Regions from separate parts of the Homo sapiens genome. Here region 1 is linked to region 2. Evidence: fine-mapped expression QTL. A gene starts in region 2. The other region holds a variant in brackets. All regions are shown on one strand. Distances are from middle to middle.

What was found. PIP is the estimated chance that this variant, and not a neighbour inherited with it, causes the effect.
Region 1: its variant is fine-mapped to the expression of EPB41L4A in whole blood (TOPMed, PIP 0.97).

Annotation. Positions count from the first base shown.
Region 1 is chr5:112,373,971-112,379,347 of GRCh38, forward strand. All of the region lies in intron 1 of EPB41L4A (erythrocyte membrane protein band 4.1 like 4A), which reads right to left. Among named protein-coding and RNA genes, the nearest start is that of EPB41L4A, 43 kb to the right of the region's middle. The variant G/C (reference allele first, on the strand shown) is at 2,161.
Region 2 is chr5:112,416,315-112,421,691 of GRCh38, forward strand. It overlaps EPB41L4A (erythrocyte membrane protein band 4.1 like 4A), which reads right to left and starts at 2,963. Exons shown (of 23, transcript NM_022140.5): 1 at 2,627-2,963. The coding sequence starts at 2,725. EPB41L4A-DT (EPB41L4A divergent transcript) reads left to right here and starts at 3,269. Exons shown (of 1, transcript NR_027706.1): 1 at 3,269-4,664. RefSeq lists a silencer at 3,628-3,717.

The sequences.
Region 1 (5,377 bases), 42 kb before region 2:
CATGAATACGTGGTAAAAGAGAGCAACTCATGTATACACTTGTCAGTTCTGTCAGAATGTAACCCTGCAGGGTAGGAAGCACCCATCTTCTGTGAGAACTTCCCACAAAGAGAATTATTAGTGTGGAATGAGTGCTCAGTTTAGAAATAAATAGCATTCTTCAAATGTCAGAGGCATCCCCATGGAATAACTCAGGTCCCCAACAAGACTATTAAGCTGATATTACAAACCGTAGCCATGAAGAAAGGAGTTCATCTATGCTGACAGTGATTGGGAGTGGAAACAAAAAGGCTGAGAATGTTCTCATTACCCAACAGTTTCCTGGATTAATCTTCTAAGAATGAACAGAAGTTTAGAATTCAGAGCCATGGGATCACCCAAAGCTGTAGATCAAAAAGAAGAGCAAAAAGCAGCATTATAAGAAATATCTATAGTCAGGGGAATAAATACGTTGACAGTTAAAGATGATGAAAAGAAGTTAAAGTCTTCTAAATAAAAATGATTCGCACTATAAAACACTCTGGCCCAATCACCTAGGTTACATAACAATAAGAGTTATAAATATTACTCAGCAATATTTTGCCTTCCAGGTCTTCATGGTGCATCTTAATACAGTTCCAAAGTTACCCCAGCAAAAGAACTCTGTGAACGCACACTCCTAGTGCTGGAGCTCACCACAAACGTGTGCTTTCTCAAGAATCATACCTGGTTTGGGTTTTATTTTCCTTCTTTAAAAGTGCATGCAAATTTTACATTCTATTCTATAAAAGATCGGTTTTGATTTTTGCCTGGGGAAGGGGTCAGAAGGTAATTTAAAACATTATTTTTCTCAGGCAAGACTGTCACTACTAAAAGAGGGGCCAAGTCTATCCTGTGGCCTTTCACATTTCCCCACCATCACCTAGAATGGATGTAGAAAACTCTGAGTTTGACAGCAAACTTCTACGTTTTTTAAAAACCACAAGGTGATGTTCAACATTCAGGTTCTCTTTGTCTGCAGAGCAGCAGCTCTGAACTCCAGCTACACGTAACAATCACCTGGAAGGCTTTTTATGAATACCAGTGCCTAATCTCCACCCCAGATCAGCAGGATCAGAATCTCCTAGTGCAGGAAGAAACCATTCTGTTTTGTCGTTGCTACTTTTAGCTCCACTGGGTGACTTTAAAGGACAGAGTTGAGACTTACTTGCTCAGAGGATCCAAAAGAAACACTACGGTCCCAGAGTGAGCCCAGAGTGGTGCAGGAACACCAGAGTCAACCCCTGGGGATGATCACGTTGTCCCTTCCTAAACCTAACTATCTTGAAGACACTGACCCACAGACCATAACAAGGTCAGTCTCTCTCTCTCTCGCACACACACACATACACACACACACACACACACCCCTTCCTCTATTTAAAAAAAAAAGCTACCTAAAACAGAAAGTTTACATGAGATCCAGAGTCTCAAACACAATGCAAAAAATGTTCTGGTTTCAATGAAAAAAATCACACCAAGAACCAGGAAAATCCATACTGAATGAGAAAAGGCAACAGATTCCAACACCAAGATGGCAGAGATGTTAGAATTATCTGATAAAGCTTTTAATGCAGCCATGATAAAAAATTCATAAAACAAAAATTCTTCAATGATCAGTCATAAACATGCTAAATGAACTAAGAGAAATGCCATTATGCTCCTCAGGCCCTTGAGGTAGTTGCACTGCTGGCCCAGCCAGGACTGTGTAGGTCTGGGCTGGTGAAGGTTGGGAAGTTTGTTTTGGTGGTGGGAGCTCATGGACCCTAATTACACTGTACATTGCAATGACGATGATCTGCTGGTAGATGTTCACTGTAATTTGCCTTTGGATTGATGGATCTAAACTGACTTCACGAATTAGAGTGGTCATGAGCCAAAGACAAGAATCCTTAGAGAGGAGCAACATCCCTGGGGAGTGAATGACTGACAATGTCTGTGCCTCCAAGGGGTTAGGGTATGAAAAAGAGGCAAGATAACTGTCCCCAGGGGTTGGCTTTAATAATACCGAAAGCATAAATAAAAACAAAAACCAATACACTGGATTTCATAAAACTTAATAACTGCTGCTAAGCAAAAACCCTAGGAAGAGGATTAAAAAGACAAGCTACTCAGAGAAAGTTTTCAAACTACATATCCAAA[G/C]AGAGGACTAACATCTAGAATATGTAAAGAACTCGCAAAACTCAACAGCAGAAAAATAATACATTTAGAACATCAGCAAAACACATAAGAGGATATATGACACTTCACCAAAGAGGATACAGATGGCAATTAAGCACATAAAAAGATGTTCCACATAATTAGCCATTAGGGAAATGAAATTAAAACCACAATGAAATATCACTATATATCTAACAGGATGGCTAAAAATTTTTTTAAATAGTGACGCCACCAAATTCTGCCAAGGACACAAAGAAATTGGGTAACTCATACATTGCTGGTGGGACCGTAAAATGGTATCGCCACTTTGGAAAACAGTTTGGCGGTTTCTTAAGAAATTAAACACACAACTGCCATATAACCCAGCTTTTGCTCTCTTTGGTATTTAGCTCAGAGAAATGAAATTTTATTTTTAAACATAAAACCTGTACATGAGTGATCACAGCAGCTTTATTCATAAAGTCAAAATGATAAACAACCCACACATCCTTCAGCAGGTGCATGGTTAAGTGTTAGTACATCCATACCATGGAACATTACTCATCAATAAAAAAGGAACAAACTGTTGACACGTGCTACAAACCCTGGAACTGCTGACACATGGAACCAACCGTGGAACTATGATAAGTTAAAAAGCAACCCAAAAGGTATGATTCCATTGATATGACATTCTTGAAATAAAATTATAGAAACAGAGAATAGATTCTTGGTTGCCAGAGTTTAAGAGGTGAAAGAGGCAAGGAAGAGAGTACGTCTATAAAAGTGCAACACGTGGCTGGGTGCGGTGGCTCATTCCTCTAATCCCAGCACTTTGGGAGGCTGAAGCAGGAGGATCACTTGAACCCAGGAGTTGAAGACCAACCTAGGCAACACAGGGAGACCCCGTCTCTATAAAACATAAAAAAAATTAGCCAGGCACTGTGTCACACACCTGTGGTCCCAGCTCCTCAGGAGGCTGAGATGAGAAGATCACTCAAGCCGTGGGGGTCAAGGCTGCAATGAATCATGATCATGCCACTGTACTTCAGCCTGGGTGACAGAGCAAGATACTGTTGTCTGTTTGTTTGAAAAAAAAAAAAAAAAGACAATATGTGGAATCTTTGAGATAATGGAAATGCTCTGTACCTTGAATATATCGATTATCAATATCCTACTTGTGATAGTAAATACAGTTTTGTAAGAAGTTACCATTGAGGGAAACTGGGCAAAGGGACACAGGATCTCTCTGTATGGTTTCTTAAAATGGCATGTGAATTATCTCAAAATAGAAAGTTTAATTTAAAAGAAATGAAAGGTTACTGGCCCACTGAACCCTGACTGCAGCAAACAGCAAGTACTTGGAAGTGACCTTTAAGTGTGCTCCAGATTTTCATTTACTGGCCATTTTCAGCTCTACCATTTCATCCATGATTCATGAGGCCCAGCAACTCAACCAATTTTATTCAATAAAAAGGGGGCATCCTGTAGTTTTGCCAAGACCAATTATTCCCATGGCGACCCTCAACATAATATTAACTATCAAACCTAGAAAACACCACAGCCTGGAGTGGACCACTTTCTCTGCTGCTACTCTCTTTGTTCTCTTGCACCTCTTCAGAGAAAGGTGCTAAAATAACTCAAACCCCTCTCTTCCCAGTACCATTACCTTTCCAGAGCTGCCTTCCAGAAACTAACTTAATCTTCACACAAATTGGGAAGAGAAAAAAAAAATCACACTGCTAACCCCCCATCTTTTACATTACAACAAACCCAGTTCTCAGGGGGAACAAAAAAGGATACTACTCTACAGCATATCTAGGACAAGAAGAATCCACCTGTGACTTAATTCATATTTGGACAACTCTGAATGCATAAACACCAGGTCCAAAAACAAAATAAGATGCAACCTTGGTTTTCTACCTACAAAGTACAGTCCTTAAAACAGATATAAGGATTCATGTTTCCATCTGCACGGAGAAATTTATTTCAACATAAAAAGATGAAAATCTATCCTAAATTGAAAGCTCTCCAGAGATGGAAAATTCACAATCTATCCTGATACTCCTGGTATTTCCCAGCCTCTGTCAGGCCACACTACCATCTGCATCCTATCTTGGTAAAAATTATGTCTGTTCCTCTCATGATTGTAGGAATTGGTCTATATAGCTTGCAAAATTTTAGTCACTCCTAAGAATGCAAGTTACCTAGAGCAGAGAGTAGTTTCTCTAGCCCTGTAATCTACCCTTTAATTTATAAATCTTTTCTATCCGTCAGAATTCAGGAGTTCCATAGTTGATATAATCTTAAAAAGCAAAAAATTCAGGATGATCAGGATATAAATTATATCTTAACAATACAGATTAACAGCCATAAGAAATATAGAGAAAGTTTCCCAGACATTGTTTCCTCGATAAATTAACAACAAAATTTGTAACACAGAGAAGACATCACACAATCATTTAACTCATGCAAATTAAGGTAGATCCACTGGGGTGGAGGGCTGTGGAGAAGACAGGGAAACTCCAGAAGTCATCCTTATTCCCTCAGTTTCCCTGATGCTTTCCTGAAATGCACTTAGAAACACTGAGTCTTCTTCTAGTTCAAGTACATTTTTTGTGCATGTCCTCTAAAACAAACTTCTTCACTGGATGCTCAACTGAACATACAGTCGTTATTCCAGGAAGGAGGAAACATGGGCTGTTTGAATGGCTGGTAGGGTGGCCTCCATAGTGGAACCTTTCTAAATGGCTTAAGTCTAGTTCTAACCCACACTATTTTTGTATCAAGGGCTGAATTTGGAAGCCATTCCACTGTGATGTGTTCTCCAGCAGTCCATGTCCACTCTCCTGTGAATTAGTTATATGCAGGTGTCTATGAGCGTGCAGGGGTGTACAGATGTGCACATACACAAACACCTTTACAAAGGTGGTGGAACACACTGAGCTAATATCAAATCAGTGCATTCTCTCAGTGGATACTCATTCCAAGAGGCGAGCACCCTGGGGGGGTCAAGCTAGCCCACTGGCTTTCAGTGGGCATCAATGAAGGCAGAAAAGCATATACATGTCCCCCCATTTAGAATTTTTGCTTAAAATTAATAACTGCAAGTTTTTTAAACGCTTCCTTTTATGTACTAAACCTATAAAACAATTAGAAGTCCCCAAAATTTTCCCCACATAGGCTGAACATCTAAAATCCCTTCATTACAAAATAAAGTCTT
Region 2 (5,377 bases):
TTCACAGTGCATTACTGTAACAATAATACAAGCAAATTCTCAAGTAACCATTTAGGAATCAGTAAAATTATTTCTACTAAGAGATGAAATGTGTGCATAATTTTAATGTAAAATTAGCCATCTTCATCTAAGATAGAATAGGAAAAAGGATAATCACAAAATAAATGTTAGGAAATGCTTTTGAAAAATAGAGATTTTTCTAGTTAATTTCAGAGAACAGTAGGCTAATTGATGTTGCCTGCTTAATTTTGACTTTAATTAGTGGTAATCAAAATTACTAAGTATACTATCTCAAGGAAAAACACCATAATGGTAGCTACTGGCTATTAACTTTGAAGTAACTGTTTACTTTTTCATTTACAAACTAAAGTAGGAGTTAATTTTAAGTAATTAATGCAACACACATCAATTGTACCTATGCACCATAATACAGGAAGGTTAGGAAAAAGTTTTTTAAAATGTCAAGTATGTACAGAACATAAACATGTTCATCCAATGTTTGAATACCTCTACATGCAAGTTTTTTTATACACACCATTTATAAATATGCAAATATATTTAATTTAGTACACGCCAAGGGTGGGTAGGTGTTTAACACATACACTTTTAAGGTAGCATAGAAGATAATGTGATTAGCTTTAGCAGACAACATCTGTGTTACACACATGGCCATCAAAATAATTGTGGCATGCTTTTGTGACAAGGACAGAGGCCAAGCCTGTTGTTAAATGATTATTTCCAACAACAGCCTGCTTAAATTATTGTTTAGTTATATGGCCCATATCCAAAGTAACAGTATTACATAGTTGCTGTTGCCTTTGAATCACTCACCAATTTTCAGCCCATTTGTAAAACAAGATAAGCACCACTGGATTATAAAAAATAATTATGGATCAGGATTTTTGATTCATGTTTCTTTGACAAAATTATTCCATTTGATCCCAAGTCCTGGCTGCTCTCTTGACAGAATAATGTACACGCTCTACAGCTGATAGGCATGACTTTGATGATTAAATAGGAAGCTCACATTCCAGATGACTTTAGACTCCAGATAATTTAGACTTTGCACTTCAAAAAGATTTCTTTACTGTCTTAGTATCTGATCATCAGTTACCTTTTTCTAATTGTTTCTATCTCGACACAAGAATCTATATATTATCTACAATTTAGGATGTTTTTGTGATTTTTGCCTATTTTATTCATACAGTACACCAAAGAATGTTACATCATCTTGTAAGTTACAATATTTTCCTGATTTCATTGGGCGGGTGAGAGGAGAAATATTTTGGAACATAAAGAAAAGTTAAAAATACAAAATGTACACCCTCCCCGAAAAGAGTCTATTTTATTGGTCTTGAAAGGAAATACCGAATGAGAATCGAACTGAATTTTGCTCAGTATAATTACTGGGGAAACAATATTCAAAACAACCTCCTAAAGGAAAGGGTTAACAATCTTGTAGCTTTAACTGATTATTTTTGCTCCTTTCTCCCGCAAAAGAATTACACCTATGAAACTGGAATTCTGTACACTAAGAATGGCAACATTAACGCTGAAACTTTTAGCCAGGAATAGTTATCCTAGTGTGCATAAAACTATGTAAAAACTGATTCACAAAAGGAAATGCCCAGGGCCTACCCCATTATGATTAACTTCTGAGATGAAGCGACTAAGAGAGGATACTTGGCAGCCTGAACTCGATTTCTCAGAAAGCCAGCTCTATCAGAGCGGGGGCGGGGGGGCGGTTTCCCTTCACCAGACTCAGCTGTTGCCTTATCTAAAATGCCTTAGCGATCTAAAACTGAAAGAGAAAGATAAACAAAACAACAAAACGCTCCGGATTTAGATCTCCTTTAGGTAGTTAACACTGTTGCAAAAGCAAAACAAGCACGCAGGCGCGTCGGTCAGGTTGTCACTACAAACATACGTACCTTCTCATCCAATGTAAGGAAGAGGATCTCTGCGAGCTCTGCTGCCTTTTTGTTTGGGCTCTCTAGGTTAATGTAGTGATTGCATTTTAATGACCCACAAACAGGAGCAAAGTTATTACTGGGTCGCTTTGAGAGATGTTTACTTAAATGTGAGGATAAACCCAGGTCGCTGTAGAAAGGGAAAATATTTTCCGTCCAAACGTAGCATTACCCAACTACGAACCCACGCAAAACAATCACAATGACCCATTAATGCGTTTCAACGAGTGAACTAGTTCACTTCCCTAATAACACTGTCAAGGAAAACGCCTTCAACAAAGTCGAGGGAAACCATGCCTTCCACACTGGTGGGACGCAGCTGGTATAACCCATTCTGCCCCTCTTTGAGAGCTGCGGGGCACCCAGAGGCTTTTGGAGAAAACCGGTTTGGGGAAGAGTTTTGGGGTGCTGCTGGGAGCCGGTGTGCTGAGTAAACTTAGAAACGTCAAACTCAACTTTGCTTTATGAAGGAACTCAAAGTTAACTCACCCTGGTACGTCCACCCTCTCCCTGCGCGCAGGGGACAGCGGCCTCTCCTCCCCACCGCGCAGAGTCGCGGCCGCCGCCCTCGACCCACCGGTGACAGCCCTCAAAGCGATGGACCCCCGCACCCGCCCTGCCGCCAACCCCCGGAACGCGCTCCGGGCCGCACCCACCTTGATGCCCTGCTGCTGGGTGGTAAGGGTTAACTTGGATTCATCCAGGAGCAAAACTTCGCAGTAAAATTCTTCCGGAACAGCGCAGAAACAGCCCATGTCGGTTGTGGTCGTCTCCAGCCAGGAGAGAAAGCTACCACCGAGGCGCCCAGCCGCCCCCTCCACTCAAGCGCGATGCATTAATTTATTGTCCGCGCCGTGGCGAGGGTGAGACGAGCAGCTCCCGGCGGGGTCCGGGGACCGGCCGCCGAACCGCCCGGCGGGGCGGGAGCGAGAAAGGCGGAAAAGCCCGGGAGAGTCAGCGCCCGGGAGCCGCCGGGGAAGCGCCGGCGGAACTGGGCGCGGAGGGCGGTGGCGCGTCCCCGCGCATCCTGCGGCTCGAGCTCCTCCGAAGGCGGGGGCGCGGGGCCCCTCCCGCAGTCCTGGGGACGACAAAAGTCTCCTGGCACTGGGGGCAAGAGACCAGAAAAAGGAGTGATGGGAATTCGAGGCTCTCCCCGGCCTTGGAAAACCCTGGAAGCGCTGCACCTCCCTCCTGCCGCACGGATTTGAGCGCGGCCCCGACGTCCTGGCGTCCGATCGGCCTGCGGAGTCCCCCGCGGGCGCGCACTTCCAGCCGCGACCCCGCCCCGCAGCCCCGGGTCAGATCCGCCGAGTATGAAGCGCTCGGCTTTTCTTTTGTGTGAGGAGCACCCACGACGCCCCGACCATGGGCGCAGGGGCAGAGGCGAAGGTCGTCGCTCCGTCCGCTACCCCGTCCCCCAGCCGCAAGCGCCGAGGAGCCGGAAGAGAGGCGGAAAGGGCAGCAGGCTCCTTACCCAGACCAGCGAGGGGAGGTCAGCTCGTCGCGGGGTGTGGCTCCCGTCCGGGGACTCCCGAGCTCATTACGGGTGGCCGTGTGTAGCCAAGTTCAAGCTCTCCCTCCGGGAATGCCTGCCGCGGCGGCGGAATACGGCTTCTTCAGGACATTCAGCAAAGCGGGGAGGCGGGGACCTGCGGGCGGAGGAGCGACGCCCCAGCTGGGAACGCGGCGGACGGGCGAGCGGGGGGTGCGCCCTGGGCGCGCCAGGCCGCAGAGGCTCCGGGGAAAGTTCTCTTGGCCGCGCGAGTGGTGGCGCCCCGGGCGGGAGCAGCCCAGGTGCATGTGGGCCCGGTCCAGGCGTCTGCAAAAAGCCCTGGAACGAAGCGGACCCCCCAGTCCAGCGCTGGCCGCGGCAGGGGAGCCCCTTCTGGGCGGGGTATCAGCTGGGGGCGGAGGGCGGGGCAGAGACCGTGGTCCCAGCGGCGAGGTGCCGGCGAGTCCACGCTGCCAAGCCGCACACTGCGCCCAAGCCGCGGGGCAGTCCAGCGCTCGCTGCGTCCTTCCCCCGAGAGACCTGGAGGCTGGGTGGGGAGAAGAGGACGCGGTGCTGCTCGGACCCCACGGTTCGGCGGTCCCAATCCCACGCCCTCCGCGCGGTCGGCCGCGTCCAGGACTGAGGGGCACAATAGCTCTGAAGCTGCAGTGACCCCTGGTGGGTCCCGATGTCCGTGCACAGGCAGCCGAGGTTGAGCTGCGGACGACACTGAGCCCCGCTGGGCTTCGGAGCAGGTGCAATCTGTGCTCTCCAGCTGGGAACCAGCAGCGAGTTAATGCGAGTCGCAGTTAGGGGAGACACGAGGGGAGGTGTCACAGAAAAAAAACTCTATATTGAGTTTTAGAGTTAGAGCTTTGGCATCAGACGTAGTTTTGAGTTGACTATTCTACTGCTTGTTAGCTGGGTAGCCAAAGCTCAAAAAAAATTGCTTAAAACCTAGGACGTTAGCCCTTAAAACAAAACCAGGCTTCCGTAGCACAGTAGAAATGAAATGAACAATTGGCGACTTTTGATGGAGTTTCCTCTCATAGTGATTTGCCACAAAGGACCTTCTGTAGGAAGCCTCGGCCTTCCCTGCTATTGTGACCCCATCCAAACACAGGATCAGCATAACCGCCAAAGTGCAATATAAATTTCTGAACTTTACCTAGGCTATGAATAAAACTATTTTATCTTCTGAATTTTCTGTGAAATTGACTCAGGTTTTGAATTTCTGATCAAATTTCGTGTCCAGCTTTGTTTTATTGTCAAAGTCTTGCCTGCCTTATGAGGTGACACCTTATTATGCTAGATTTTAGCATTTCTGCTTGTAGAGGCTTTTCTTTTCTGTAATACAGTATTCCTGACAGGAGTTACCAAATGTGATTGAAAGATGGCTTAACATTTTCATTCTTTACCTCCATATCCAACCGAGACACTTGAGGCTGCAAAAACAAAAGGTTCAAGCAATCATCTGTTCCCAGTTTTTTTGAGTTTTGCTCTCACCTGTTTTTTGGCCCTTTGATTTGGTTTTTTTGCTTTCTGATTTTTGGTTTTGCTGTTGTTTGTTTTTGTTTTTTTACCTCCAGTGGCAGTGAGAAGGCTGAGGGTTTTGGATGGGCAGGGATTCTGTTCCCAGCTCCTCATAAGGTAAGTTACAAAGCCATAAGGTCCCATACATATGACACTCTTTCCTGAGTGAAGCATTTTCTTTTCCATTTCTTTATCGGAGACTGGAGAAAAGAACATTTAAAATCTATTTAACACAAAATTAGAGATTACTAGTGACAAGAGGATTCCACAGAGTTTCTAAGGATAGCTTTATTGCATATAATTTACATACAGTTCACTGCATAATTTTTAAGTGTACAATTTGATAAGTTTTGACATAAGTGTGCACCCATGAACCCACCAC